4 separate regions of the Homo sapiens genome follow, and regions 1, 2 and 4 are each linked to region 3. The links come from fine-mapping of genetic effects on gene expression. A gene starts in region 3. Each other region holds a variant in brackets. All regions are shown on one strand. Distances are between the middles of the regions. Region 1 overlaps ALG6 (ALG6 alpha-1,3-glucosyltransferase). Region 2 overlaps ALG6 (ALG6 alpha-1,3-glucosyltransferase). Region 3 holds the start of PGM1 (phosphoglucomutase 1). Region 4 overlaps PGM1 (phosphoglucomutase 1).

Region 1 (8,198 bases), 160 kb after region 3:
TGAAATTCAGATTAAATGTAATGATGAGTGGAATTAAGTACCAGTTTTCCCATTTAAAGCCCCAGCTGCTTATTAATTTATAGATTCTGTAGAAATTTTTTTAAAGATTTATCTAGTCTATTGTGTAGCCTCTATCTCAGGAGTGAGTTTTTATTTTCCTATGCTTATAGAGAAAAAAACATTTTCAAGGTTTTAAAATTTTACACCATTTATAAAATATTAGAGTGTATTTTTTCAGTACAAATGTTTAAAATATGAAGTTTTTTTTGAACTAAACTACAAAGAGTACTGAATTTAAAGAAAAGACCTTTATTAAGGGGCAATATGTGATCCATTCCAAATTATTTTGAAATATTAAATTTCAGTTATTCTGTGGTGTTTTCTGTCATCATCATGTTTTTGTTGTCACTCCCAAAATAAAGGGGAGGAGGGAATCACAGAGTATGTTATCTTGATAGTGAAACCTCTGCTTTTCTTGACCATTTCTGTAAGGAAAACTGCTACTCCTTTGGTACTTGCCCTAAGTTTTAACAAAATTAGTAGAAAATATTACCATGTCATTTGAATATATCATGAAAAATGAAAACTACATGAAAATCTGAAACAAAATATAACAAGTTAAGGTTGAAAATTTTCCACTGCGTGCAATGGCACAAGCCTTTAATCCCAGCTACTACTCTGGAGGCTGAAACAGGAGGATTGCTTGAGCCCAGGAGTTTAAGACCAGACTGGGCAACACAGCAAGACACCTATCTCAGAAAAAAAGAAAATAATTCACTTTCCACTTAGAGAAATTTTAGATTCACCTTTTTAAAATGAAAGGTTTTTAAAAACTGTTACTATAAATTATATAAATTACCTTCATTAATTATGTTCTTCATACTGTTTAAGAAATTTATTCTGATACAGTGCTTATAATAGGATGTTACCAAAAATATACTAAAAAAGGATTATTATAGCATTGAAAACTAACCTTAGGTTATAAGCCAAAACATTTTATAAAGTAATCTATGTTAGTCAGGTAATACAGAGTTAAGAAGTAGATTGGTTTCATATATAATTCAAGTTATATAGGTATGTGCTTAATGCTATTAAACCAGTTACTGTATGTTTGACCTCTTGATATACTAAGCTTTTGCCTTTTAGAACAGCTGGGTCTGCTGAGAATCATTTCCCAGTTCTTTTCATTGTAGATCAGATGACTCTCACTTTATCACCCTTGGAGGCCACATGAAGGACAAAGCAGAAAGATCCACACACACAACTAATGTTTATATGAGGGGAGGGGGAGTTGCAGGGGATATACTTGCCCTGATCTTCCAATGAACATAACAGAAGAGAGACCAATTGAGACTTGAAACCATTGCGTTACTTTAACCATTATTTAGTTATATCCTATCCATCTCTTTCTCTCTGTTGAACAGAGAGGTTCCTTTGGCTGCCCTGACTTTTGTAAATGTTTCACTCAATTTGTTGTGGTTTATCATTTGGACAGAATGCTACATTGGGGATTTTTCGCCCCCACTAAGTCCTCAAGGGAAAATGACTTCTGTATGCCTCATATATGATACATGAACATACACCCTATTCTCTTCATTTTAAGAAGCAAACCTAAGTTTTTTGGCAGCTGAGAAAACTGCATTTCTCAGAAATACCTCCTCCATCTAAAACGTACTTGAACATAACTTTGAAGGGCTTATTTTTTGACAGGTATATTAATGAAGAAAGTGAGGAATCTATCTTTAATATTTTTGCATAACCTATATGTATTTATATGAAAACATCCCTATAGCCCTGAGTTTAGCTAAGAGAAATGCTTTGGACCTTGCCTACTTCTGTGATAATTCATCACTGGATATTTTTGATATTTTGCTTTTTTTTGAGATGGTGTCTCACTGGTCTCAAGCGATCATCCTGTGTCAGCCTCTCAAATACAGACCGCTGTGCCTGGCCTCTGTTTCTGGTATTTTGTTTTGGTATTTTGGAACCTAATCCCTCTAAGTTCAATATAAACTCTTAAACCGGTTTTTAATAGATACGAGGGATACTTATAAGATAACTGCTACAAGTCTCTATAAAAACTATAGTGCAACTCAGTATGATTAGATTAAATCATCTGAAAAATGATTTAAGAATTTACCTATATGGTACCTTACAGAATTTACCTAGATGATACCTTGAATCAGGTGCATTTCATTTTACTAATATATGTACATAATACTTTTATTTCCAAATAATAAAGTTATGCTACTCCAATTATTTATAACTTCCTCATCATTTATCTAAGTCAACATTCTATGTTAAACACAAGTGTACTATTACAAAAAATATTTTTAAAAATAAAGCTACACCAGCCAGCCAAGATGCTGACATTTGGGCACAGTGATTACAGATGGTGACCATGGACAGCAATGTTCTTGCTGATTCGGCAGTGATTCAAGGCTGCTATTCTGCGTTGACCTGCCCTTTGAGTCTTTATGCACATTTGCTTTGAGAAAGAAACCTTTCTAGATTTTTGCTTTGTCTAAACCCACTTCCTTTACCAGACTTAGAAACACATACCTTCTTATATCAGCCTGTGACTGTCCGTGTCTAGAACCAGTTTTTTTTTGTATGTGGTTTGATTTGCACTATATTAAAATATACCACCACTTAATATAGTTTAATGGCTATCTTATGAAAGAAGAAATATATTCCTTAAAAAATGTTGATGGGAAAATGATTATCTTTATTACAGAGGCTAAAGAAAACATATCTTTATATGAGAAACTGCAACATGGATATCATGTATTATTTTTACCAGTTGAATACTATAATAAATATTGGCTTCTGCTAATACAGGGTGATACAGTATTAATAGGATGAAGTTAACATGAATCAATGCTCTGGCAGTGGTAACCCTGAACCATGTCAATAATAATATATATATAATATAATGTTTAATTAAACAGAATGGTTCTGGAAGTTTAGAACCAGTGATTATGTGTAATTTAGAAGACTTCACTCAAACCACTTAAAGTTAAGTTAAAGCTTACATTTAAATTCAGGAAAATTCATTTTTAATTGTATTAAAATATGCATTCTTGGAAATAAATAAGATTATGGTTTATTTGCCTTGTTAAAACAATCAAATTTGCATGTGTAATAAGGCATATTCAAACTTCAAGCAGTTTAAATTGCCTTCTCAGTAATTAAAAAGATTATCACAAATTTAATTCCCTAAGATATGACTTCTAAACAGTGAAATACACACTACTTGCATTCTAAAATGTAAGTTTGAATACCAAAATTAGTGATTTCCATTAAAAAGAAGGGGCTCAATTCTCCCATGAAGCTCACTATATGGTCTGATGAAGGAAGTAGGTTTAGACAAAGCAAATATCAAGAAATATTTCTCAGTTTTTTAAAGACATTTAAAAAGTGCATTTCCTGAGTAAACAATGGGATTAAGGACATGTTTCTCTTTTTTCCCCACTTGAATAGCTGTGAATAATAAAACCACATGTTTTGGCCAAGCAGTACTTAGACAAGCCTCCATTGGTCTTTGGTCTCCATATACATTTATTTTGTGTAGACAACAATGACTTTTCACCATTTCCTTTCCTGTGGTTCCATGGTTCTCAAAATGGTAATTTCATTTATACATAGCAAAAAGTTCACAAAACCTTTCAGCACTGTTCACATTTTCACATTTGTTTAGGAAACAATTTGTTTAGGAATACAGCTAGCTGATTTTCTTCTGATTTCTTCCACTTTTGGAATCCCACATAATAATAATGTTAAAGTATACCAAGAAGAACAGGAAGTTCAAGCAAGATACAAAACACACCAATACAGAAAACAAGTCCGGTAGTTTCTGAGGAGGATCCAGTGTGACAGTCATCAACGTCA[G/C]AAGCACCATAGTGATGACTGAGATAAGAAACTGCAAGGAAAAAAAGGATTACTGAGTAGTATAAAAGGTGAAATTTAAATGTGCTGGAAACATTGACTTGTAGCTATTAAATGAGCAGAATTAAAGGTGAGGGTTGAGGGTCTAATTTATTCTGGTGTATCTCAACTTTGACTTCCTATTAGAATCATATGAGGAGTTTTTAAAATCTCAATGCCCACATCACACCCCAGACCAATTAAATCAGGCCTCAGTACTTTTTAAAGCTCTCCAAGTGATTCCCATGTGTAGCCAAAACCTGAGGACCCCTGTCTTCTTATACTTCCTACCACCAAGGCACTGAACAAAGGTATCTGGGACAAATATTAATGCTAGTCAGGGTTAAATTTATAACATCCCCTGGGGTCCAACAGGATATAAAATTCTAAGCTAATGGGTACAAATGTATAGGTAGCTAGAAGAAATAAAACCTAGTGTTTGGCAGGTCAGTAGGCTGAATATAGTTAACATTAATGTACATTTTAAAATAGCTAGAAAATAATAAGTTGAATGTTCCTAGCATAAAGACATATTTTTAAGGTAATAAATAGCCCAGTTACCCCGATTTGATCTTCATGCATTACATGAATGAATAAATGAATCAAATTATCACATATACCCCCAAAATATATACATCTATTCTGTATCAATTTTTAAAATTCTAAGCTAACCTTGAGAACCCATCTGTGAAAAAGTTTTCCATGGCAAATGGAAAATTACATTTCATATTCGCTAAATGCTTTCAATGAGTAAAGCACACGAAGGCACATGAAAGAAAATGAGGTCCTCTGGCCTCAAAGAGTTTTCCATCTACTGAGGGGAATGTTAAATAAAATCACAAAGTCACACTGGCTTAAATACCAAGCTGAGTAGTAAAAATAATTAGCACATTTATTGTAGTTGTGTGGTCATCAGTTAGTGTGGTCTTCTCTAGGCCAATGTGCTATACAATAGAACTTCCTGCAGTAATGAAAATGTTTTGTCTGCACTCCAGTATAGTAGCTGCTAACCACATGTGGCTATTGGGCATTTGAAATGTACTTACTGTGACTGAGGAACAGAATTTTTATTTAAATTTAATAAGTTTAAATTTATATATATGTCTAGTGGCTACCGTACTGGACAGACTGTGACTCTAGACTGTGAGCTCCTTTAAGACAAAGACCAGCAAGATCTTACTCATTTTATCCCTAGCACAGTACACAGGTATACAAAAGCAGTATAAATAAATGTAGAAAGCAGTGAGAAACAGTAGTGACTTCCATGAAGTGGGTGGGACACAGAACCCTAAAGGATGCCTTAACTGCTGGCTACATTATGACAGTATTGGTAAGATCTAAATAGAGAGTAATGCAGTGATCATTCCAAATGGAAAAGCGAGGATAGGCGCCAAGAAAGCTTACAAGCAGATACAAACAAAGGCTGCCAGTGTCGTTAAAGGAAAAATTCCTGAGGCAACCTTAGTGGGAAGTGCAAACATCTGGAATGAAATCTTTAAAATAAAAGTTTCAAACTTAAGAAATATGGGACTGGTTGAAATGTCATAATACCACGATCTTGAGTCAGTGTTAAACAGAACAAAAACCCTCTCTTGCTCCAACTATTACCCCATTTGTCTGCTCCTATTTACACTTGTTTCCCAAAACAGTTGCCTATAAACATGCTGTGTCCAGTCTTCATCCCATTCACTAGTGAACCCATACCAATTGGGCTTTCACCCTAATCACGATGAAACTGCTATAGTCAAACATCCATAATGACCTCCAGTGTAGTAAATCCCATGGTCAGTTCTTACTGCCTTACTTGATTCTCTCATTAGCATTTGAAATCACTCTCCTCTCACTGAAACACTTCGTTCACTTGGCTTCCATGACATCATACTCTTCTGGTTCTCCTATCTCACCCAGTTAATTCTTAGACATCTTTGCTGGTTCCTCATGTCCCCTACGTCTGCATTCTGGGGCTTCGTACCTATTCCTCTTATTAATCTATACTCATACCCTTAGTGAGTCATCCAGTAATATGACTTTAATTACCAACTATATGTAAAGACTCAACTTCGTCTCCAGCCTGGCCCTTTCCCCTAAACCAGGGTTGTCCAATCTTTTGGCTTCCCTGGGCCACACTGGAAAAAGAAGAATTATCTTGGGCCACACATAAAATACACCAACACTAACGATAGCTGATGAGTTTTTAAAAATATCGCAAAAAAACTCCAGGTTTTAAGAAGTTTATGAATTTGTATTGCACTGCATTCAAAGCCAGCTTCAGTTGCAGATTGGACAAGCTTGCGCTAAACTCTGGACTCATATATCCAGGTACTTCTTAATATCTCTACTTGGATATCTAATAGGTATCTAAAACTAAACATGTAAAAAACTCTTGGTCTCCTCATACTCCCGACTGCCCCCACCACACACAAAGTTCCTTCAACATGCTTCCTCCAATTCGGTAAATGGCAACCCCACCCATTCAGTTATGTATGCCAAAAACCTTGGAGTCATCTTGAACACCTCTCTTTCACAACCCCAGCAATTCCTGTTGGCTCTACCTTCAAAATATATAAAAAATCTGACCATTTCTAACCACTTCCACTGCTACCCTGGTCCACAGCACCATCATCTCATGGATTCCATTATCCACAATCTGTTCTCCACATAGCTACCATAGGGACCTTTTAAAAATGTAAGTCAGATTCTAGTCCCATTATAAGAAACTACACTGTTACCTCTCTAATCTTAGGTCCTATTATTTCTTTCCCTCACCCAGCTCCAATCACTATGACCTCCATGATGTTCACTGCATTTGCAGTTTTTCTCTTCTAGGATGTTCTACCCTCAATTATCTGCAGTTTACTTCCTTTGGTTCTTTGCTCAAGAAAGCCCTGCCACTTTAAAATTGCATTCATCCCTCCTGCATATCATATCGATTTCTCCCTTGCTTTGTTGTTCTCCATAGCACTTATCACCCTCTGACATGCCATATATTTTACATATGCTGGTGCTGGATTTCTCCACTAGAATGCAACCTCCATGGGAGCAGGGATTTCTGTTAGTTTTGGTCACTACCGTATCCTCAGCCTCCAGAACAATGCTTGCATATAGTAAGTGCTCAAAAACTATTAAAGAACAAATAAATCTGGGAGCCCATAGCGGTCCTCACCTTAAGATTACTGGACCAGATTGTGAATATCACAATAGGGCTAGATTTTGACATACACTCAGGAATCTGGGCCTATACTAACAAAAAATGAACTTTATATCTACTTTCCATTTGAACCCCTGAGTAAAGTTAATCCTCTCCTTGTCTTTCCTGTTCACCTCTTAACTTCCTACCTCCCACACCACTATCCTCCATGGTCATTACCTAAAGTGCAAAACCCTCAGGACACCCATTCAACTCTGCCCTGAGAATACCTGCCTTGTCTTCCTACAAGATCTAAATATAAAATATCTCCTTTGAAACCTTCCCCTACACTCCCCTAATAGAGTTAGTCATTCTTTTCTCTTTGTTATCTGGGTACTTTGGGCAATCCTCTATGTAGTACTCAAAAATATAAATAAGTATAGCCTGTTGGGCTGGGCGCGGTAGCTCACGCCTGTAATCCCAGCACTTTGGGAGGCTGAGGCGGGTGGATCACGAGGTCAGGAGTTCGAGACCAGCCTGGCCAATATGGTGAAACCCCGTCTCTATTAAAAATACAAAAATTGGCAGGGTGTGGTGGCACGTGCCTGTAGTCCCAGCTACTCAGGAGGCTGAGGCAGAAGAATTGCATAAACCCAGGAGGTTGAGGTTGCAGTGAGCCAAGTTCGTGCCATTGCACTCCAGCCTGGGCAACAAGAGTGAAACTCCATCTCAAAAAGAATAAAATAAAAAATAAAAATTAGGCAAGCATGATGGTGCATGCCTATAATCCTAGCTACTCAGGAGGCTGAGGAAGGAGGATCACTTGGGCCCAGGAGTTCCAGGTTGCAGTGAGTTAAAAATGCACCACCGCACTCCCGCCTAGGCAACAGAGTGAGATCCTGTCTCAACAACAACAACTTCATAACATTTGTAGTAGTTGTCAAATATTCCGTGGAGCTTATATACTTATTCATGTATCATTTTTCAACTACTGGATAATTGAGCTGCCTCTAATTTTTCATTATAATAATTAGATGAATATTCATTCATTCAACAAACAAAAATCAGAGCACCTATTCTTTGTGAGGCACTGATAGATGCTACAGATAAAATGGCATGTATAAAATGCAGAGTTCTTGACCTC
Region 2 (8,198 bases), 220 kb after region 3:
CGTATTGCCCAGGCTGGACTCAAACTTTTGGGCTCAAGCAATCCACCTGCCTCGGCCTCTCAAAGTGCTGGGATTACAGGTGTGAGCCACTGGGCCCAGCCACCATTTTTCTTAATGTTTAGCATATTTACTTTCCTTATCTGAAAAATGACAAAAATATATCATAGCCATCTACAAGATGCCTTCAAATAATCTACTAATGTGCAATAACAATATTTTTCTTATATAGTAACCCAAAAGGAATCTGATTCTGTTGATTTTCCTAGGGACAATTTAAGAGCAGGGTTTAAAATAAGTAGCTGGAGTCCTGTTTTCTTTTCCAGATGAGAAAAGTAATTGAGTAAATTCAGTTCATGAAAGAAATGTCAGGTTAAGTAATATATGTAAGTCACAGGAATAGAGAAGTATTGGATGAATTGTCCCCTCCTGAATTCCCATTAAGCATTTGATTATATATACCAGCAATACTGAAATAGTATCATTTAAAAATTTGTAGTATTTTATCCTATACTCTGATTTTAGTTCTTTTCAACTTCACCTTAAAATAAACGAGAAAATAATATATGTGTCACAATTAGGAGACAAAAGGAAAACTGGAAAAAAGATTGCAAACTAAATAATCACCATGAATTAGTACCAAATTCAGAAAAGGGGATGACTTTCCAATGGACCAATTATGGACTAAAAGTAATATTATAAGTTACATATTTTATGTAACAACTTCTAATTGGACCTTTCCTCAGCCCTTCTTCCCCCACTTCAGCCACCAAACTACTTCCTTTCTTCCGTTCACGAACAAACGTCCTGAAAGTTGCTATGTCCATTTGATAACTACCATTCAGTCCTCAGTTCATTACAGTCTGGCAACCAGGAGGTTCACATGGTCTCCTATAGATCCCTTGTCTATTTTAAATTTTCATCCTTTTTGACATGTCTATAGCTTGACACTGTTGGCCGGTCCTCATTTTGTAAAGTTGTCTGGTTTCTTGGCTTCTAGAAAAACAAACTCTCCAGATGCTAAGCCTACTACACAGTTTCTTCTCAGTCTCCTTTAATCATTCTCCCTTCTCTCTGGAGATGATTAGTGGTTAAATCTGTTTTCTTCTTGCACAAAAGTTGCTTTTGTTGAGGGGCAAAAGCAACTCTTAAACCTGTTGCTTTTGCCCCTCAACCCCTGGCTTCAACCATCATGTCTATTAACCCTCTGTAAACACTAGAATAACTTATGGAGCTTTTAAAAATATAGATGGCACTTCGGTTTCCAGCAATATGCCAGACAAAGGGTCCAAAAACATCTCCAGTAAAAATCCTAGTTAACATTGAATAAATAATGTATATAATATAATGTTTTATATATGTTTTATATATAATGTATGATTTATATTTGTTTTTATATAATTAATAATATAGTATTACGTATCCTACTTTTATAAATATATAATTTTAATATATGGCTGAACTAGCAGTAACATGAAAGAATTCCTTAGAGGCCCCAGAAACAACAGCAAAGTGTAGATTCAGAGAAGTAAGCATTTGCCTTGAGGGTATCCAATGATCTCTGGTGGTCAATAGCCTGGCTACCAGGAGCCCTGTGCAGTCAGTAAGGAGGCAAAGCCTGGGACCTGAACAGGTAGGAATTCAAGGTCAGAGAACCCTCTACTACAATTTAAAATACAATGCCTTTAGGGAGATAGTGAAGATAGTACTCATCTCGGCCTTGGCTCCTGGTAGTACAGGAAAAACGAAAAAGAGTCCTATGAAAACTCCTAACCATATGCCTGCATTTGCCCAGGTTGGGGCCTGAATTCACACCAAGTACATGACCCAAAGAAACTTTAAGTTGCTAATTTAGTTTGATTTTTGTTAATAGTGCCCCAGGTGCCTACCAGGAAGCAACATAAACCCTATGTGGAAAAATGCACAGGAAACTCAAGCCTCAAAGAATTCCCACAGATAAAAGTTCCAAATTACATAAACTCACTATTTTATTAAAAATCACTAAGCTCATGAAGAAACAAAATACCATGAGCAAGGGTCAGGAGAAACAAAAAACTATGAAATCAGAATGCAGATACGAGAATTTTTAGATAAGAAACATAAAATAAGCATGGTTCAACTGCTTAACAATACAAAAGAAGACCTTGAAAGTATGCTGAAGGAACAAGAGACTATCAGAAATGATCAAGATCTAAAAAGGAACCAAAGAGAACTTCTGGAAATAAAAAATATAATAACTGAAACCTTAACATTCAATGGGGAGTTAAAAAAAAAAAACAAACAAATTAAGCACAGCTAAAAACTAATGAACAGGAAACCAAATTTGATGATTATAAAGGAAGCACTGTGAAGAAACCCCGAGATGGAAAATACAAGAGATTATGAAACACAGAAGACAGAATGAAAAGACCCAACATACATCTAACAAGAGTTGTACAAGAATAAAAATGAGGAAGATACAATATTTGAAGAGATAACTGAGAACTATAAAGTCAATGAGGGGAAGAGATTATTGTCTATTTTATTCTCTGCAGCATCACCAGCCCTTGGCACATAGTGAATGGCCTATACTATCTGTGGAATTCCTAACCAAAGATCCAACATATATCTAATCAGAGTTCTAAAAGGAAGAAAAATAAGAAGACACAGTAGCTGAAAAGTTTCTAGAACAGACAGAAAATACCATTCCTTAGAGACAGAAATCACAGAAAATCCTAGGATGACAAATGTTTTAATATTCACTAAGATATATCATAGTGAAACTGCAGCAAGAAAGGAAAGGCAAATTACCTACAAAAGAATAACAGTTAAAATGACAGCTGATGTCCAAACATCAACACAAATTAAAAGACAATGGTATTTTCAAAATACTAAGAGAAAACAACCATCAAAACAATTCCATACCCAGCAAAACTTTAAGACTGAAAGCCAAATAAAGGCATTTTCAGACAAAAACTGGGTTTGCCACCAACAGACTCTCACCAAAAAAAACTCCCAAAGGTGTACTTCAGGAAGAAAAAAATGATCTCAAAGAAAGATACAATATGTAAGAAGGGTGAACAGAAAATGCTAAACACAAGGGTAAAACTAAATAAATATGCAGGGCACAGTGGCTCACAACCTGTCATCCCAGCACTTCGGGAGGCCAAGGTGGGAGGATCCCCCTTGAGCCCAGGAGTTTGAGCCCAGCTTGGGCAACACAGCAGGACCTTATGTCTACTAAAAATAAAAAAACATATATTTAGCTGGGTGTGGTGGCAAGCACCTGTAGTTCCAGCTACTGGGGAGGCTGGAGCAGGAGGATCCTCTGAGCCCAGGAAGTCAAGGCTGCAATGAACTATGGTCATGCCACTGTACTTGAGCTTGGGCAATAGAGTGAGATCCCATCTCTAAAAATAAATAAATAATAAATAATAAACCAATATTAACTGTACAAAACAAGTCATTAATGCCTAATTTATAGGATTAAAAATCATGGAAGAAACAAAATCCTAGACAGTAACATTTTAACTTGGGAAGTGAGGATCTGTAACCAGAATTAAAACATTCTAAAGTCTTTGCATTGTTCAAGAGGATATAAATATTAACTTTAGGCTTTGTTAAGTTAAATATGCAACTGAAAATTTCCAGATAAGTCCTGAAAGAAGAAAATAAAAATATAGCTTTCAAACCAATAGAGAAGGGAAACAGCAATTGCGGAAGGAAATTGCTTAGACATATCTAAACATACAGTAAAGAATAAAAGGACAGAAAAAGATATAACAAGCAAAAATCAAACTAAAGAAAACTATTATGGCTATATTAATTTTAGAGGAAACAAACTTTAACAAAAAAGCATTA[C/T]TGTAAACAAACAGGGAAGCAACAGTGATATGAAATTCAGGTCACACACAAAAAAATTCTACCTGTTAATACCACCACTTTGGGAGGCCGAGGTGGTGGATCACCTGAGATCAGGAGTTCAAGACCAGCCTGGCCAACATGGTGAAACCCCGTCTCTACTAAAAATGCAAAAATTAGCTGGGTGTGGCAGCGCACGCCTGTAATCCCAGCCACTAGGGAGGCTGAGGCAGGAGAATCCCTTGAACCCGGGAGGCAGAGGTTGCAGTAAGCTGAGATTGTGCCGTCCAGCCTGGGCAACAGAGTGAGATTCCATCTCAAAAAAAAAAGAAAAACAATTCTAAATCACCTAGTAATATAGATACAAAATATATACATACAAGTTGACAAAACTACAAAGAGAAACTACAGCTCTCTTAATAACTGGTAGATCAATTGGTAAAATATCAGTAAGAATATAAAAAACGATTGTATCAAAACAATAATATTGGGTTATTGAATATATGCAGAATATTAAACTAGAGATTACACATTCTTTTCAAGCACACACAGAACATTTACAAAAGCTGATTACATACTAGGTCAAGTTTCAATGCTTTTCAAAGAATTAGTAGTACACAGAAAGATTCTCTTTCTACCATCTACTTAAATTTAAAATATCAAAAAGGTAATTTTTAAAGCCTAAATATTTAAAAAATTTTAAACATAATTCTAAATAACTCATGGGTCAAAGTAGATGTCACATTAGAAATTAGAAAATATTACTTGTGGGATGGTACTCTAAAGAAAATGTATAGCTTAAATGATAGTGTTACAGAGACTGAAACTTAAGAGCTAAAGCATCCAATTTAGTAAATTTAAAAAAGAACAACCCCAAGGATATCACTGAGAGAATGGGCAAAGCTCAGATTAGTTATTTGAAAAATACGGCTATGTACCACAATAATGACATCTCAGTCAACAACGAACTGTATAAACAATGATGGTCCCATAAGATAATCATACTGTATTTTAACTGCACCTTATCTATGTTTAGATATGTTTAAATACACAAATACTTACCATGTGCTACAACTGCCTACAGTATTCAGTACAGTAACATGTTGTATAGGTTTGTAGCCTAGGAGCAATAGGCTATAATGTACAGCCTAGGTGTAGTAGGCTGTACAATCTGAGTTGGTGTAAGTCACTCTACAATGGTTGAACAATGACTAAACTGCCAATTGACGCATTTCTCAGAATGAATCCCCATCATTAAACAATGCATGACTGTACTAATAAAATTAATAAACCCCTAATAAGACTGATTGTTTTAAAAAATGAAACACCACTAACTATATAAGAAATAAAAAAGGAACTATAATCATTGATACAGCAGAAAATGTAAAAGGTAAGAAAACATTATGAATAATTTTATGTCAATACATTTTAAAACTTAGGTGAAATGGAAACATTTCTAGAAAAATATAAATTACAAAAATAATTCGAGAAAAAAGAGAGAGCCTAAATGGTCCTATAACCAATAAACAAATTAAATCACTAAACATTTTCCTTACAAAGAAAATTCCAGGCCCAAATACCTTTACTATCAAGTTCTACCAAGTATCTAAGGAACAAACAATTCCAAGCTTACATACTATTCCAGATTTTACAAAAAGAGAGAATACTCCCTAATTCATTTTATGAGGCTAGCTTAACCTTGATATCAAACCTGACAAAGGCATTTTAAGGAAGTAAAAGAAATGGGCCAGGCGTGGTGGCTCACGCCTGTAATCCCAGCACTTTGGGAGGCCAAGGAGGGCGGATCACCTAAGGTCAGGAGTTTGAGACCAGGCTGGCAAACATGGGGAAATCCTGTCTCTACTGGAAAAAAAAAAAAAAAAAAAAAAAAAAATGCCGGGGGTGGTGGCACATGCCTGTAAATCCCAGCTACTCGGGAAGCTGAGGCAGGAGAATTGCTTGAACCCAGGAAACGGATATTGTAGTGAGCCGAGATTGCACCATTGCCCTCCAGCCTGGGCAACAGAGCAAGACTCAGTCTAGGGAGAAAAAAGAAAAAGAAAAGAAACAAAGTATTTGCCTATATCACACTACATTTTTTTTTTAATGGAGTCTCCCTCTGTCACCCAGGCTGAAGTGCAGTGGCACCATCTCTGGCTCACTGCAACCTCCGCCTCCCGGGTTCAAGCAATCCACCCACCTCAGAGGCCCGAGTAGCTAGGACTACAGGCATGTGCCATCATGCCTAATTTTTCTTTTTGTAAAGGGGGTTTCACCATGTTGGCTAGGCTGGTCTGGAACTCCTGACCTCAAGTGATCCCCCTGCCTCAGCCTCCCAAAGCGCTAGAATTACAAGCATGAGCCACTGTGCTCAGCCTACATTTTTATGTAGTATGTATTTACATGTCCACCTTATCCACTAGACTGTAAACTTCTCTAAGGAAGATACCATTTATTATTCTTGGTCACCCTAAAGACCAGGCCTAAAGACTTAATCACCAGCAAGACCTATTTTTCCTGCATAGCAGACATTTTAGGGCTAAATGATCTGATGTGAGGATCAAATGAGATGAGTTATGAACTATAAATGTGCTAGTTATAGCCCTGCACTATTAAAAAAGAAAACATAATTTATACATATTATCTCAATCCTCACAAGAATCCTTTTTTTTTTTTGGAGACAGAGTCTTGCTCTGTCACCCAGGGTGGGGTGCAGTGGCGTGATCTCGGCTCACTGCAACCTCTGCCTTCCAGGTTCAAGCAATTCTCGTGCCTCATCCTCCGGAATAGCTGGGACTACAGGCACCCGCCACCACACCCGGCTAATTTTTGTATTTTTAGTAGAGACGGGGTTTCACTGTGTTGGCCACGCTGGTCTCGAACTCCTGACCTCATGTGATCGGCCCACTTCGGCCTCCCAAAGTGCTGGGATTACAGGCGTGAGCCACGGCCCGGCCAAGAACCCTCTTAAAGTATGTATTAATACCCCACTTGATAGAAGAGGCTCAAGGAGATTAAATAAATTCCCCAAGATCAGGCAACTAACAGGTGAAAGAGCTAAGATTTGAGCCCAAGTCAACTGCTACATTTAAGTGATTTTACTTCCTCCATATTCCTCGAACTCATTCAGAAGCCACAGAGCACAGTCATAAGAGCACTGATTGTGGAATTAAATACAACTATATTTGAATCCCAGTTGTCATTTATTGGTTGTCTCATTTTCCATTTGTAAATCGAAGATATTACCTGTCTTCAGTGGTTGTGGTAAATACTAAAGAAAATACTCATACTCAAAATATAGTAGTTCTTACAAGTTCTTTCTATAAATCCTTTAAATTCATGCTGAATAAAGAGAAACTATATTAAGCCAGAGTATTTGAAAAAATTGGGCGCAGTGGCTCACACCTATAATCCCAGTACTTTGGGAGGCTGAGGCAGGAGTATTGCTCGAGCCCAGGAGTTCAAGACCAGCCTAGGCAACACAGTGAGACCTCATCTTTACTAAAAATCAAAACAATTAGCCAGACAATTAGCCACATGCCTGTGGTCCCAAGAGGTCAAGGCTGCAGTGAGCCAAGATCATGCCACTGCACTCCAGCCTGGGCAACAGGGGGAGACCCTGTCTCAAAAAAAAAAAAAAAAAAAATGTAAATTAAATTAAATTGAAAAATAAAAATAGCCCAAAAAAGTGTGTTGTTTTGTTTTTTTTTGAGGCAGAGTCTTGCTCTGTCGCCCAGGCTAAAGTGTAATGGGATGATCTTGGCTCACTGCAACCTCCATCTCCTGGGCTTAAGCAATTCTCGTGCCTCAGCCTCCCCAGCAGCTGGGATTACAGGTGTGCGCCCGGCTAATTTTTGTATTTTTAATAGAGACGGGGTTTTGCCATGTTGCTCAGGCTGGTCTTGAACTCCTGAGCTCAGGCAATCCACCCACCTTAGCCTCCCCCCAAAAAAAAATGTTTTAAGAGAAAAGAGAAACTATAGTCTGGTTAAAATATTGACTGGACATAGTGGCTCACACCTGTAATCCCAGCACTTTGGGAGGCTGGGGCAGGCAGATCACTTGAGCTCAGGAGTTCAAGACCAGCCTGGGCAACATGGTGAGACCCTGTGTCTACAAAAAATACAAAAATTAGCCAGGCGTCGTGGTGCACGCCTGTATTTCCAGCTACTTGGTAGGCTGAGGCAGCAGAATCACTGCACCAAGGAGGCGGAGGCTGCCATGAGCCAACATTGTGCCACTGCACTTTAGCCTGGACGATGAAAGTGAAACCCTGTCTCCAAAAAAAAAAGTCTTACAAAACATATATGTATGTGTGTGTGTATACATCTATATGTAAGAGCTACAGGCCAGGCACGGTGGCT
Region 3 (8,198 bases):
GACACCTGCACATCCCTCCATCACAACACCTGACACATTGTGCTGTCTGCTTACTCCTGTATACCACCCCTCCCAGACTATGTCTTTCCCAAGGGCAAAAATATTTTGTATCTCAAGTACAATGTCTGAGGCAAAGCAAGCACATAATAAATGTTTGATGTGAATAAATTTATTGGTCACCAGCTACATGCTGGCTTTAAATCAAGTGCTAGAATACAAAAGTGACTCACAGTTCAGAGCAAATAAACAAGAATTCATTGAATGCTACATAGTCCTAGGCATTGCAGATACAGGTAAAACACAGGTCTGACTTAAAGAAGCTTACTCTCTAGTTGGAGGCCGTTGACATGTAAACGGAAAATTTCACTAGAATTTAATATATATATTCTAGAATTATCTATGGGAAAGGAGCACTTAATAGGTGGAGAAGAGTGGTAGGGATGGGGTGTCAAGAAAGGTTTCTGAAGATGCCATCTGGACTGAATCATATCACAAGAGAAAGAGTAGCATATTTAAATCCCGAGTGAGTAGAGAGAGTGAACAAAATCAGAGAACAACCTGAGCGTAGAAACCTAGGGAATAGGCCAGGCGCAGTGGCTCACGCCTGTAATCCCAGCACCTTGGGAGGCCGAGGAGGGTGGATCACCTGAGATCAGAAGTTCGAGACCAGCCTGGCCAAGATGGTGAAACCTCATCTCTACTAAAAATATAAAAATTAGCCAGGTGTGGTGGTGCATGCCTGTCATCCCAGCTACTCAGGAGGCTAAGGCAGGCGAATTGCTTGAACCTGGGAGGCAGAGGTTGCAGTGAGCTGATTGCGCCACTGCACTCCAGCCTAGGCGACAGAGTAAGACTCCGTCTCAAAAAAAAAAAAAAAAAAAAAAGAAGAAGAAAAAAGAAAGAAAGAAAGAAGAAAGAAACCTAGGGGATAGTCAATGTGCAGCCCATGAAGGAACTTCCAAAAAGTGTGAGTAGAATCAGGAGAGTAAGCAAGGCCAAGGGAGGAAGAACTTTACAAGAGTACAAAATCAGCACTGCCAAATGCAGCAGAAAGGCCAAATAAGATTAGACCAGAGTGTATTCCATGAATTTAGCAACTGGCAAGTCCCTAGTAACTTTGGCAAGAGCAATTCTACTGGAGTAGTGGAGGGGGCAGAAGCAGTGAAATGGCGAGTAAACCGGAGGTGAGAATGAGAAATAGTGAATGCAGAAAGCTTTTACAAAGGTTGGCTGAGAGAAGAGCAATAGGGCAATGGCTAAAGGGTGATGAAGTTTTAAGAACTTTTTTTTTTAGTCTTAACTAATTCTTTCCTTCCCACCCCACACTACTCCCAAATGGACAAATTTCCATCTGGGCACCTAAAATTCCCACTCTGCTGTAAGCTCCTTAAGGACAACTCTTGGGTCTGCATCATCCTTTTAGTCCACACATTTCTCTGAACATGGTATTCAACAGGATCTGTTGAATGACTGACTGAATAAATGAATGAATGAATGAAATGCAAATTCAGCACAGGTGGTAACAGGGAAATGATCTACTGGGATACAGCTATTGTCTGTTCTTCTTTCATGGGAATTTGCGCTTGTCTGAAAATTCAGGACCACAAAGTAAACAAATCCAGGCAATCTTCTCTCACTGATGCTTATAAATGTTTGGCCCAGGAAGGCAGATGTAGATAGAGCCCAGTTTAGATTTTGGAGCCTGGAAAACAGATCTTCAAGATCAAGGGCTGTTCATTCTTCATTCTCAGGAGCTGTTCAAGTTCTTGGGATTGGCAGATCTATATTGGACTCTTAGTGCTGCCATTATAGTTTTTGTAAATTATTTAACCTACCTAAGCTTCAGCGTCCTCGTTGGCAACTTGAAGATACCCATAATAGCATCTACCTTATAGGGCTGCAGGAGGATAAATGAGACCCAGAAATGAAGCGCTTACCATAGTGCTTGGCAAATAGTACTCAATGTCAACAAAATAAGATAAATAAAGTACTATTAAAATGAATAAAAATATCCATTTCAGGGGATGCGTTCCAGAAGAATTGGGCATAAGTCAAATCTCACTTAAAATATAGAAAGAAAACTTGGTCCTCAGAACTCCTTAGAAATGTTTTACAAAAGTAAGTGAATAATTAGCCCCAACTTATCAATCCACTTTTTTTTTCTTTTTTTTTTTTTTTGAGACGGAGTCTCGCTCTGTCGCCGAGGCTAGAGTGCAGTGGCGGGATCTCAGCTCACTGCAAGCTCCGCCTCCCGGGTTCACGCCATTCTCCTGCCTCAGCCTCCCGAGTAGCTGAGACTACAGGCGCCCGCCACCACGCCTGGCTAATTTTTTTTTTTTTTTTTTTTTTTGTATTTTTTAGTAGAGACGTGGTTTCACCGTGTTAGCCAGAATGGTCTCGATCTCCTGACCTCAGGTGATCCACCACCCTCAGCCTCCCAAAGTGCTGGGATTACAGGCGTGAGCCACCATGCCCGGCCCCACATTTCCATATATCAGATTTACTGAAAAACTTTTTTTTTTTAATTTCCCCTATCCGAGTGGACCCGCCCAATCAAGTCAGTTAACTTTCCTTGGCCGGGGGCGGAACCAAGGTGTTGCGGTAATTTCCTGGCCTGCCACGACTGCTTGCTTGCGTAAGGGCGTCTTTGGGTATGTTGCCATTCTAATGAAAATTCAGCTCCAGCCCCGTCGGTGGAACAGATCCCGGGCACCACTGGGCAGAGACTAGATGTTTCAAACGCCTGCCCCCCAGCAAGCAGGCCGCGCAAAGGGCAGGAGTTCGGAACCAAGGCAAACTAGGGGGCGGGGAGAAAAGATTGGCACCCGCCTGCTGAGATCTGCCAACCTGACGCCCCAGGGGGATGGGTGCTCTCGCCACCCTTGCCCCACAGTGTCGGGCTCCGAGCCAGCGGGAAGCGCCAGTCCTAGCCGAGAATAGCAGAGGAGCGGGCGGGATGCGAGGGGGCTCTGGGCGAGGCGGCGGCAGTCTAACCTTTCCTGCTTAAGGCGACAGCACTCTGCGCCGTAATCGTATCTTCCAAGGCTGCAAGGTTAGGGCAAATGTCAGACGCCTCGGGAGGGGCGGGGGACGGGGAGAGGGAAGGCAGCGGCTAGAGACGGAGAGTCGGGCGTGACCTTGGGAGGCTCCGCGCCCGCACCTCCCGGCGCCCCGGGAGTCAGGCGAGCAGGTCTGCCGGGTCCCGTGGCCACTTTCCCCAGCCCGGCGACCTCCGTCGGGCCTCCAGGCCAGAAGAGCGAGCGCGAAGGAGAGGGAGGAGCGGGAGGTGGAAACCGAGGCGGCAGCGCGCGGAAGCGGCCGGCCCCGAGCGAGGGAGGGCGCCGCGGGCCGCACGTCGCACACGCGCCAGGGTGCACAGCGGCGCGGGGCCGCGCATCCCTTACCCCGTTGGCGGCAGCGATGCGAGCGATGAGCTGGATGGCCTCCTTCATGTAGAACCGGCCGTCCCCGCCCACCACCAGCGTGGCCTCCTGCCGCTGCGCCGGCTCCACGGTGGAGATGATACTCTGGATGAAGTTCTCCGCGTAGTTGGCGCTGCTCTGGAACACCTTCACCCGCTTCCGCAGCCCGCTCGTGCCCGGCTTCTGGTCCTGGTACGCCTGGGTCTTAACTGTCACGATCTTCACCATGGTGGCGACTTGCTGCCGGGGGTCAGAGCGGCGGACTTGGCTGGCGGAGGGGCGGCCGGCTGAGGCTGCAGCTGCTCTGGGGTGAGGGCACGGCGGGTGGGGGCTACGCCGCACTCTAGGCCGGCGTTTGGCCCTCCTCCTTAAAGGGACAGGGGACAGGGCCCTCCCTCCGCGCCAGCCCACCTCCTGGCAGGTCCGGCGGGAGGGGAAAGGGGAGCGCCGGTCTCTAGGCCTCCTGTGAAATGGGTGGAGCCTTACTGATTTACTCTCCCCTTCGGAATCCTATCCACTGTAAAAAGAGGCCCGCAACTCCTCCTCTAAGTGTTGGGGCAGAGGTTGGGGTAGGAACCCGGTCATAGGGCAAGGACGTGAGGCAGGGTGGAAAAAAGTACAGGGTAGAATGATTTCCAGTGGTTTGGCGAATGCATCGTGTGTAAATAGCTTTCTGGAAACCTGTTGGGAGGGTCAGAAGTGCCAGCCCCAGCTCGATTTCATGAGTCGTAATTCTTTCTATTTCTCCCTAAATGTGAGGGCATTTGAGTTCCGTAAAGGAGTCGACTCCAAATGTTTCCTGCTGCACCACACACTTGACTACCATTGGTGACGGTGACTTAGCTATGACTTGCTGAGTGTAGCGTTTCTAAACCTTACTAAACTCTGGGTTTTATTTTTCCCCTTTTTATGCTTACAAAACTGAAATTCAAAGAATAAAATGCCTTGTCTCATTGCCACACAGCTAAGTCCATGCGGGAGGCCAATTCAGGTGGTCTGGCTCCAAAACCAGGGCTCTTCCCATGATTTGCCCGCTGTGACACCAGGTTGGCAACTAGGAAATGTACAAGCAGGACTTGACAAATGTAGGAGCAAATATATGGTAAGGATAAGTATGAACACCATCAAAATTAGCCAGTTACTCATGTAATAGAAATAAAGTGAGGAGATCAACAAACAAGGACTGACATGGCTGGAAAAGTTTCACGGGGGATAGCAAGGTCAACCAAGGGGATTTGATTATTAAGTAGGAATCTTCAGTCTTTCTTGCTTTTCGGTTTAGTATCTCCCTTAATTTGATGAGAGTGATTGTCTCCTCTGTTCAAGAAACCTGTCATTTTGGTAAAGTGGCAAAAAACTTGGCTTTACAAGGTGTGTGCTCTTGGGAAAGTTAGTTAATGTCCGTGGGCATCAATTTCCTTACTGTAAAATAAACATATCACCTACTTTGGAATATTTTTGCAAGATTTAATGGGGTTTTGTATGTCAGAAATTCTCAGTCATGGATACACAGTAGAATCCTACTGTGACCCATGCTCACAGTAGAATTACTTGAGGTGGTTTCTAAATGACCCAGTCCAAACAAATTCAATCATAATCAGCTGTTAGAAGTAAATCATCTAGCCTGGTGCCTGAAACATAGAGGCCTTCAAAAATATTAGCTCCCCTTCCCCAATTCCAAAACCAGAGCATATCATTCACCTGTGAATTATATTCTTTTGGTAGTTAATTGGTATGTCTTGATCAAGCAGGGAGGCGAACAGACCCATAAGAGTGCAGACTCTCACAAACCAAGTGTTGATATACATGCTCATATAGTACATGCTATGTAGATACAGTGTGTTGATGTAGTCACTATAGATGAGTTTCGGTGGCAAATATTATGTGAAAACGGAACCCTGGACTGCTAGTAATGAGTTCTAATATTTGCACAGGAGTTTACAGAGCAGTGTAATCTTGTGAATTAAATAATATAATCAAGCCCATTTTATAGACGAGAGAATTGAGGATTGGATGGTGAATGTAATCAAGGTTATCTAACTCCACAAAATGAAAATATAGCATAGATTCACTGAGCCTTCAAAATACCTACCTTAGAGTTGTATGGTTTAGATAGAGAATATACAGCTCCTACCACAGTGCTAATAAGTAAGTCATCAATAAATGATAACTTGTAAAGTCACGGGCCCAAATTCAGATCTCATGCCCTTTCTATATTCTTCAGTATCTTTGGAAATATGATGGAGCTTTTCATTTAAGAGGAATTGATCTATACTTCTCTCACCCCAGAAGTTGTAACAATTAGCTTTAACTGCATAACACACCAGTCTAAATCTGAGTGGCTTAAGACAACCCCCATTCATGATTATAGTTCATGATTCTATGAGTTAACTGGCAGTTCTGCTGTTCTGGACAGGGTTACTGTGGCCCCTTATACAGACCTAACATGATCCCCATGTTCCTTGCCTCCTGATAATCATGCCTTTATGCAATCCCCTTGTATTACAGATTGAGTATCCCTTATCCGAAATGTTTGGTACCAGAAATGTTTCAGATTTTAGATTGTTCCGGATTTTGGAATGTTTGCATTACAATGGTTGTGCATCCCAAATCCAAAAATCCCAAATTCAGAATGTTCCAATGAGCACTTCCTTTGAGTGTCATGTTGGCACTCAAAAAGTTTTGGATTTTGGAGCATTTTGGGTTTGGGATTTTTGGATTTGGGATACTCAACCCGTACTTTTCTACTGCTGTATGACAAATTACCACAAACTCAACAGCTGAAAACAACACCCATTTATGATGTCACAATTCTATAGATAAGAAGTCCCAATTCTATAGATCAAAAGGTTTGGCCAGGTTCAATCCTGGTAATCACGGATATATAACAGCTTATAAACATCAAGGAGAAAGTATTTTGACCTTCATTAAATTCTTTTTAAGGCAAGCATACCTGTTTAAACTGATTTGTCTATAGCCAGTTGGTTTAATTTCATTGAATTCTTCCCAGAGCCTCAAGATAAGAACCCACCCAAGCTTGGTGCGTTCTTATCTGGAGCCTCTGGGAAGAACACCTTGATTTGAAGTCAAGAGCCAAGCTGGCTTCTTATCTGGAGGCTCTGGGAAGAATTTCTTTCAAGTGTTAAAGATAAATAAAAATAGAGGCTCCAGTTTAGATATTTTAAGTCCAACCACCCATAGCCAGGTAGCCAAAACTTAAGTCATCCTTATTTCCCTGAAACACTTGCTCTAGACATAAACAAAACACAAAATGTCCTTGACAGTGTGAGTCAATGAAATTAAACCAATCAGCTATAGACAAATCAGCTTAACAGCTCTACTCGCCTTAAAAAGAATGTAACGAAGGTCAAAATACTTCTTCCTCAATGTTTATAAGCTGTACTGTAACTGCTGTGAGCTGGGCTTCTTGCCACTTTTGGTTAGATGTCTTCCAGTTTGTAAACTGTTCTTTGTATGCATGCTAAACTTTTAAAAATTTTTAAAGTTTGATCTGATTTTAACACAGCGCATTCAGATTGCTGGCAGGATCTATTTCCTTGCAGTTGTAGGATTGAGGTCCCCATTTCTTAGATTAGACCTACCTGGATAATCTCCCTTTGTAACGTGTTCATAGGAGTAATGTATCATCGTATTCACAGGTTCTACCCACGTTCAAAAATTGACTTGCAGAGATTTCCAAGTTGTAGTATTTATGAAAAGCAAGAGAAGGAGTCTTATTCCCCTGTGGGTAGCACTGAAATCGGGAAAGAAGCCATTGGAAATATACCAAGATATGCAACAATGATTACCACTGAGTTGCAAGATAGGGCAATGTTTATTTTCTTTATATTTTATCTGGATTTTCCAGGTTTTCTATAGGGAATTTGTATTATTTTTAAAATGATAAGTACATATTATGTATTTTCCTTTTCTTTGAAATACCTTTTAAGTGGTAATCCTTACTTTTTTTTTTTTTTTTTTTTTTTTGGAGACAGTCTCACTCCATCACCCAGGCTGGAGTGCAGTGGCACGATCTTGGCTCACTTCCACCTCCACCTCTGGGGTTCAAGCAATGCTCGTGTCTCAGCCTCCCAAGTAGTTGGAATTACAGGCACATGCCACTATGCCCAGCTAATTTTTGTATTTTTAGTAGAGATGGCGTTTCGCCATGTTGGCCATGCTGGTCTGGAACTCCTGACCTCAAGTGATCTGCCTTCCTCGGCCTCCCAAAGTGCTGCAATTACAGACATGAGCCGCCACACCCGGCCCTCATTATTTCATTAATGAATTATTCTTTACCATTTAGATGTATTCGTTCGTGTATTGATTCATTAACTCTATAAATATGTTTTGAACTTGTACTAAATGACAGCTCTTTGAAAGGTGTTTGATGAATAAGACAAAATAGTCTCGGCCGGGCGCGGTGGCTCACGCCTATAATCCTAGCACTTTGGGAGGCCAAGGTGGGCGGATCATGAGGTCAGGAGATCGAGATCATCCTGGCTAACAGGGTAAAAACCCATCTCTACTAAAAATACAAAAAATTAGCCAGGTGTCGTGGCAGGTGCCTGTAGTCCCAGCTACTCAGGAGGCTGAGGCAGGAGGATGGCGTGAACCCGGGAGGCGGATCTTGCAGTGAGCCAGGATCGCACCACTGCACTCCAGCCTGGGCAACAGAGCGAGACTCCGTCTCAAAAAAAAAAAAAAAGCAAAATAGTCTCTGGTCTCACAGATCTTGCAATATGTTGCAGGAGACAGATACTGAATAATAAATCA
Region 4 (8,198 bases), 69 kb before region 3:
TGCCAAGCTCTTTGGCTGCCCCAAGTTCAGCTCTAGTGAATTCAAGTGCATAGTGGTACTCTGTAGCTGCTCCTCCTCCAGAGGGCACAGAGAGTAAACTTTGGGAGTGTCCACAAGATGCCACCTTCACCAGCACATAGAGTATACAAGCCAAGGAGGCATTATTCCCTCCATCAAGATTTCAAAGGATGGAACTACCCAGAGCCTCAGGTGTGTGACCCAGGCAGAGGGCTGCCAAGAGGGCTGGGCCACTGCAGAGTCCCTACTAGGTCAATGTCTAGTAGAGCTGCTGTCAGACCAGTAGAACCGCCTATATGTGATTCCAGCCTGGGAGAACTGTAGGCACTTGACTAAAACCCACGAGAGCTGTAGCATGGGCTGTACCCAGCAAAGCCACGGAAGTAGGGCCATCTGGAGCCTGAGGTCCCAATCCCTGCCCCAGCATGTCCAGCAGGTTGGATGGCAAACCAAAGATTATTCTCAGTCTTAAGATTTAACATTGTTGGCCAGGTTAGGTTTCAGACCTGGGTCCTGAGACCTGTTACCCCTCTTCTTTCCTGTATCTCCCTTTTACAATGGGAATGTCTATACTATGCCTATCCTACCACTGTATTTTGAAAACACATAACATGTTTGATTTCATAGGTTTACAGCTGGAGAGTAAATTTGCCCCAGGATGAGTTGCACCTTAAGCCTCACCCATATCTGATTTAGCTGATATTTAGAAAAGACTCTGGACTTCAGACTTTTGAGTTGATGACAGAATAAATTAAGACTTTTGAGGCTAATGGGTTGGAATGAGTATATTATGCATGTAAGAAGAACATGAAATTTGGGGACCCAGGACCAAAGCCTACGGTCTGAATGTTTGTGTCCTCCCAAGATTCATGTTGAAATCTAAATCCCCAAGGTGATGGCAGTGGGTGATGGGCCTCTGGAAGGTGATTAGGTCATGAGGGTGGGGCCCTCATGAAGGAGATTAGTGTCTTTATAAAAGAGGCCTGAGAGAGACCTGTTGCCCCGTCCACCATGGGAGGACACAGCAAGAAGGCACCATGTATGAGCTAGAAAGTGGGCCCCTACCAGACACTGAATCTGCTGGTGCCTTGATCTTGGACTTCCCAGCCTTCAGCACTGTAAGAAATTTCTATTGTTTACAAAACCACCAGCTTACAGTATTTTGTTATAGCAGCCCAAACAGACAAAGATACCAGATAAGGCCTCAGACATTGTGGAGCAGAGACAAGCTTGTATCTCCACTGTGCCCTGACTGGCTTCTTGACCCGCAGAGTCTGTGAGCATCATAAAATCATGCAAAAGTTTAATACCATTAGATTTTGGGGTACTTTGTTATACAGCAAAGGTTGAACAGAAAAAAAAAAAAATCCAAACATCCAAGGGTGATTGGAGGTGGCTGGTCTGCTTTCTCCTTCATCATTAGTGGGACTCTGCACAAATCACATAAACTCTCACAACTTCCATTGCTTTATCTGGGATAATAATAGCACTCCTACCATCATGTAAAAATGAAGTCAGAAACCAATGAAGATGAAGCTTTTATGAAATGACACCGTCATGAGAAGCAAAGAGATTGCTACTCGTAACTAGCCTTTCTGTTAATTGGAGAGCTGCACTCAATAAGACATGCTTTCTGGAAAATAGTTATTAACCCACACCCACAATGACAACTTACTGGATGGAGGTGGAGCTTTCATATTTGGTGAAAACCAAACCAAAGCCCTCCACGGTTTCCATAGGACGATCAGACAGACATGAGACATGCTCCCGCCAGTGACCTCACTTGTTTTGGATAATGACACACTTGTGGGAATGCTTCTTGTTCTGATAATGGGAACTGAGAAGAGCCTCTCAGACTTCCAGAAATAGATGCTCAGAGGAGGATCCCCATGCCAGCATGACGCCCAGTGCCAGGGTACCCACTTTACCCATCATGGGTTCCTTTCCGTGAATCTGCTCAGAGGGGGGCTTTGGGGATTGAGGCTGGTTTTATTGATTCTGTTCCTTAAAGCACTCATTTCTGTATTCAGTAGAACTCTTCCCCAACTATACCTCCCAATTAATTTTGTAGCAGTGGGAGATAAAATGTGTTTTATCATTTAAATTAAACATTTTCTTCAAAGTGACCATGACACATAACTCCCATCTATTGCCAGTACCCTCCTGCCCGCCTCTCCTGGGTGCTTTCTCACTTGCAGCCTCTAACACTTTTTGAAAGAGTTCTTGGTTAACCAGTGACTAGCATGGAAGTTGCTCAAATCACTTGTCACCTGTAAAATTGAGACAATCCTGCCTTATAGGTCAGGGAGATTCCAGCATAATGAAACATTCTGCCGTGCAACTAGTAGATTTCATTCACTCATTCTGAAAATATTTAATGGGGCTTTTGCTATGTGCCAGACACAGGCCTAGATCCTGGGTAAACACTGGTGAAAAAGGCAGTCTCTGCCATGTAGGAGTTCCCAGGGCAGTAGAAGAAATGGAAAGTAAACAGGTTATGAACATAGAATGGGATAAGCGCCTCGAAGGGGGAAATAGAGGTGATAGGAACACCAGAAAAAGCTCCCAAACCAGACACTGGAGGCTCAGAAAGCACTTCTTGGAGGAAACGATGTTTAAATTGAGACCTGAGGAACAAGTAGGAGTTGGGAGAATATGGCGGATGGTGGAATGGAGGGGAAAGGTGGAGAATGTAGTGGAGGGTGGGATGGAGGGTAAAGGTGATTCAGGTGGAAAGAAGAGCAGCTTCCAAGGCCTGGGGGCAGGAGGGAGGTGCCATGGTTCCCCAAGACTGAAGCTTGGAATGTAAGGCTGTGAGTAGGGGGAGAGGAGCGGGAAGTGACAGGCAGGTGAGTCACACGGACCTGGAGGCTACACAAAGGCCTCTGCACTTCAACATTTGAAAGAGTACTTAGCTGGTGGTGTGGAGAATGGATCAGAAGGGGCAAGTGGGAAGGCCAGAAGGCCATGGGGTGCCCCCGCCAAAGCCCACAGGCCATGCAGTGAGTCCTGCATGAAGGCTGTTATACTCATATCCAACCCCCTCTGCTGGGGGGGTTCAGAACGCAGAAACACAAGGGGGGCACCTCTTACTCATGGTAATATGTTTTCTGGAGAATTCTTATAAGCAAGGCCAGCTTCTAATGAGTCAACAAGAAACGTTGAAGAAAGCAGCATGGCAGAGGAGGCAGAGGGACCCTGTCCTCAAGCCTGGCCTTGAAGGGCCAAGGAGATGAC[A/T]CTCCCCAGAACCACAGTGAGCTTGGCCTCTGCTTTCACTCCCTATGAGGCAGAGCCCAGCCACTGGAAGCCTGGCCACTGTGTAGGCCTGGGGCACATCGCTGAACAGGAAACTGCTTCTCTGAGAGAATAGCTGAATGTCAAGAGGGAGAGAAAAAGTGAAATTTCAGAATTGGGCCCCAAACAGTTCCAACCCAATTTTCTCACTGTAATTCTCACCACACCCCAAAGAAAACAAGCCTGACTCACAGACCACATCAACGCTGGAAGGCGGGGAAGCCTGGCTGGGTGCTGCTGCCCGCCTCTCAGGACTCCTCTCCCGCACTCCCTGGGGCACACACACTGCGGCATCTCTTTGGAAGCCCTGGAGAGACACAGTGATCCTTACTACCCACACCCACCTCCACTGCCCCATGGCTCCAGCCACCTCCTTCTTCCTCCCCTGAGCTTTTAACTTCCAAGCTGTTGCCAAGTGGAGGCAGGAAAAGCAGTTGAAATACGATCAGGGAGGAGGAAATTTTTGAAGCCATTCCAGGGGCCACAGAACTGGGAGTATCCGCAGCTGATTCAAGAGATGAGGAGGCAGAAAAGGGTCAGGAAACATGAACGATACTTAGGGTCAGAATTCCAGTTCCATCACACGGTAGCTGAGAACCTGGGGCAAATTAATGAGCTTCTGTTGAGCTTCAGTTGCCTCAACTGGAAAGCGAGAAGAATGATGTCTTGCTTCGAGGGTTACTGGAAAGCATCTAGCCCAACATCTGAGATAGAATAGGTGCTTGGAGAATATGTAGGTTTTACCTACACAACTCATAACATTTATCCCATACAGTTTCTACTTGTGCTAGATTCGATTCCCCTGGCAAGTCTTACAGGCAGCTTGATGGCATGGGCTCTGTGTTATACAGCTCTTCCTCCCAAGCACCTCACACTTAATGTGGATCAATACATATTTCCGGGCTGACTGATACATCCAGATATCCAGATCTCTGCAGGAGCTAATATAATGCCAAAATAACAGATTCTTTGGCATCCAGAGCACACAGTATCCCCCTTTAATGCGTAAAGCACAGGGGCATTTGCACACCTTTCTTCCACGTTAGGTGTAGCCTAGAAGTAGACAGTCCGTAGAAGAAATCTGAAGTGGTTTGAACCCTGTAGGGCTGGAGCTGCACTGTCTGGGAGCATCTACCACTCCCCAGCAGTGTGATCTTGGTTGAGTAACTGAACCTCATCTGTAAAATGGGAATATTCAGAGTACCTACCTCAGAGTTGTCAGGAAGATTTAAAGAATATATGGAAAGCGCTCAGAAAGAATATATGGAAAGTGCCTGGCAAGGGGTTAACGTTCCAGACAAACTCATCACCACCACCACCATCATTGTCATCATTGTCAAAGCATAGTTTTGTTTGCTGAGCTGGCAACAATGGAAATCTTACCCCAGATAAAGATCCTGCCACCTGTATCAGGGAGTCCATACTGAGTAGGGGAGGGGTACAGAGCTGGGCTGACTTTTTAGAATAGCCCATATGGCAAGGTGACTTTGTGAAAGTACCTTGGAAATGTAAAATGTGTTACAAATATTAGTGTTACAGTTTTTGTTTTTCCTGTATATACAGTACTTTAAAATCTAAAAATGGTATCATAAACATAATTCTAGTTTTCACTTATTTAACAATGTACCATGCACTAGATACTGTGCTCACTGCTTTACACAAATGTACTCACTTAAGGTACTCAACAATTCATAAAGGTAGAACTACTTTCATCCCCACTTTAAGGATAGGGTAATGATATTCAAAAGTCACTCAGGGTCTCAAGTGGGATTCAAACTTGGGTCTGTTGGCTCTCAAGTCTACGCTTATTTAACTATAATATACTCATGGATGGAATATAAGTGTTCTGAGCTGAATAAGATGCCAGTGGGCTCAGATTTTTGGCCAAATGTCAGTAACCCTGCTCTCAGATTCTGAGGGTTCTGCCTCCATCCCTTCAATAAGCGTCAAGGCATCTCCGCACTGCAGAGCACGTACCAGTGCTTTGCTATTTAAGCACTAGGAAGAGGAAAATCACTCTTCCTTTCCCTTGTTCCAAGTTAACCATGTCAAGCTTGATTTGTCTACCTTGGAAGAATCCAGAGCTCAGTTGACCCTGCTAAGATTTTAAATTACAATTCTCTTAAAATTTATGTTACTTTTTAGAATATTCAGGACAATAAAAAAAATTACAGTTCTTGAGTCTAAGGATTTGCAACCTAGCCTAGAGACCATTTCATTTTCTGACTAGGACATGAAAACAAAATACAATACTCCCCTCCTTCTAAAAAAAAAATTGTTTTTCTTTCTAAAATCAAAAAAGTACTTTGCAGTTAAGAAAAAAAGACGACAAGCAATTGTAGCTTATTTTCCTTTATTATCCCAAAATATCTGTGTGAATGGGACAATGTCGCAAAACAAGGCAGAAATCTGTAGCCAAGTACGTCTCACTCAGAGGAAAGAACTGATTGGACAGAAGGCACTAGAAATTGCATTTTGTTGGGTTACATGTAAACAGGAAATGGGGGGAAAGATTCACAAAAGAGAAAGGAACTTGCACCATCATTTCATTGCCACATCCTAAGGATGAAGAATGGCCTCACTCACTGCTGATGCTCCACCTATAGCTTACATTGTAGTGTAAACTGTACCTGATGGCTAAGGAGACAAATACCCACGCAGCAGCAATGCAGGAGGGCATGAAAAGGAATTGAGATTGATCTAAGCCCGCAGGTCCTCTTTCCCTCACAGCTCCCAAGGGCATCTTGTTTGGCAGTGCCTTGTAAATGCACTGCTCGTCAACTGGTTAGTGAAAAAGTCAAATCCTAAAATGCTTGGTGAATACATTTTGTTTCTGTCATGCTCTTCAATCAGATGACTTGGATGGGTCCGGGGGTGGAGGGACGTACCACATCAGGCCTGTCTTCTTAGGTGATGACAGTGGGTGCAGTGCGTCCCGTCCTCTCCTGCAGCTGGGACACTTTCAGAGCAATGGAAATAAGGGGGGCCAACATGACCTGAGGAAGACATAGAGAGAAGCTTTTCCATCACTTCCTCTAAACACAGATGCTTAGCTCCAAACCCGTACGTCTGACTGCCTACTTCCAGGTCTCCAAGGCTCCTCAAACTCCACAAATCCAAAAACAAACACATGTTATTTCCCCCAATACCTAGTTCCAGCAGTTTCTATTTCAGTGGATCAACACTACAGTCTTTCATGTAAAGTGAACAACTAGGAGTTGCTCCTGACATCTTCCTCTGCATTTTCCCCATGCCCAGTCCATGAGCAGGCCTCAATGACTTTTCCCCGCTAAATCTCTCTCCATGGCCCCCTTTTCTCTCCACTCTCCTGCTGTTAAGTCTTGCTAAGTCAATGTCCTGTCTCTTACCTGGAGCAGTGAGTGCCTCCACATCCACTTGTGCATCTTCCAATTTCTTTCCCACACTGTTCCCAATGGGACTGATGTGGTTTGGCTCTGTGTCCCCACTCAAATCTCATCTTGTAGCTCCCATAATTCCCAAGTGTTGTGGGAGGGACCCGGTGGGAGATGATTGAATCATGGGGGTGGGTCTTTTCTGTGCTGTTCTCATGATAGTGAATGGGTCTCATGAGATCTAATGGTTTTAAAAACAGGAGTTTCCCTGCACAATTTCTCTCTTTTGCCTGCTGCCATTCATGTAAGACATGACTTGCTCTTTCTTGCCTTCCACCATGATTGTGAGGCTTCCCCAGCCACGTGAAGTGTAAGTCCAATTAAACCTCTTTCTTTTGTAAATTGCCCAGTCTCAGGTATGTCTTTATCAGCAGTGTGAAAACAGACTAATACAGGAATCTTTTTTTTTTTTTTTTGAGATGGAGTTTCACTCTTGTTGCCCAGGCTGGAGTGCAATGCTGCGATCTTGGCTCACCACAATCTCTGGCTCCCAGGTTCAAGCAATTCTCCTGCCTCAGCCTCTCTAGTGACTGGGATTACAGGCATGCGCCACCACGCCCGGCTAATTTTGTATTTTTAGTAGAGATGGGGTTTCTCCATGTTGGTCAGGCTGGTCTTGAACTCCCGACCTCAGGTGATCTGCCTGCCTTGGCCTCCCAAAGTGTTGGGATTACAGGCGTGAGCCACCGCACCCGGCCTAATACAGGAATCTTTAAAAATGCAACAACCCCTCCCCACATCTACTTCTCGCTTAAAGAAAAAAAAAAAAAAGAGAGAATTCTGTTGCTTAATAAATGCTTTCAATATTAAAAAAAAAAAAAAACTACTAATCTGGTTGAACTGCCCATTTTACAGATGAGAAAACTGATACCCAAAGAGATGAAGTGATTTGACTAAATGACTCAATAGCAGAGCCAGGAGTAGTACATTTTCTACTGCTGAATGCTACTTTTTCTTATCTAAATCTCCACCGATCCATTATACCTGGAAAAGGAGAATCAACTCCACCTGCTGAAACTACCACATTTCCCCTTAGGGCTTGGGCAGTCCCCACAAAGTGCTGATGGCCTAGCAGCTGCAGAATAAGGAAAGGCAGCTCCCCGGCTAGATGGTGATACACCTGGGCATTGTGGGAACCTCACACCATCCACTGCCATTCCACCTGCTGAGGACTATGGTTCAGAGGAAACAAATTTCATTCACTCTTTGAATCTACCACGTGCCAGGCATTTATCTTGATGATCAAAAGACAAACACAATTTCCTTCTTCCTTTTCTCTTGTGCTATTAAGTGTCTATAATGCAGACCCCATTGCCTTTGGTTGAAGTTTTAGGGATGCCTACAACACAACAAGGTACTGGTGATGACTGAAACTGGGGCCTGGCCACTGGAAAAAATGTAAAAGTGAAGCATTCTCTCATCTCCCACTTTCTGTAATAAAAGCAACTATACTACTCATGTGAGGTACCTACA

What was found. PIP is the estimated chance that this variant, and not a neighbour inherited with it, causes the effect. A credible set is the group of variants that fine-mapping cannot tell apart.
Region 1: its variant is the best candidate, but not a certain one, in a credible set for the expression of PGM1 in whole blood (INTERVAL, PIP 0.75).
Region 2: its variant is the best candidate, but not a certain one, in a credible set for the expression of PGM1 in whole blood (INTERVAL, PIP 0.51).
Region 4: its variant is the best candidate, but not a certain one, in a credible set for the expression of PGM1 in whole blood (TOPMed, PIP 0.87).

Annotation. Positions count from the first base shown.
Region 1 is chr1:63,432,547-63,440,744 of GRCh38, reverse strand. It overlaps ALG6 (ALG6 alpha-1,3-glucosyltransferase), which reads right to left. Exons shown (of 15, transcript NM_013339.4): 15 at 2,192-3,922. The coding sequence ends at 3,725. Among named protein-coding and RNA genes, the nearest start is that of ALG6, 69 kb to the right of the region's middle. The variant G/C (reference allele first, on the strand shown) is at 3,892.
Region 2 is chr1:63,372,941-63,381,138 of GRCh38, reverse strand. All of the region lies in intron 2 of ALG6 (ALG6 alpha-1,3-glucosyltransferase), which reads right to left. Among named protein-coding and RNA genes, the nearest start is that of ALG6, 9.4 kb to the right of the region's middle. The variant C/T (reference allele first, on the strand shown) is at 3,838.
Region 3 is chr1:63,588,941-63,597,138 of GRCh38, reverse strand. PGM1 (phosphoglucomutase 1) reads right to left here and starts at 3,728. Exons shown (of 11, transcript NM_002633.3): 1 at 3,405-3,728. The coding sequence starts at 3,650. RefSeq lists enhancers at 2,692-2,751, 3,452-3,741 and a silencer at 3,112-3,411.
Region 4 is chr1:63,657,696-63,665,893 of GRCh38, reverse strand. PGM1 (phosphoglucomutase 1) reads right to left here. Exons shown (of 11, transcript NM_002633.3): 11 at 5,649-6,308. The coding sequence ends at 6,219. Among named protein-coding and RNA genes, the nearest start is that of PGM1, 68 kb to the right of the region's middle. The variant A/T (reference allele first, on the strand shown) is at 3,256.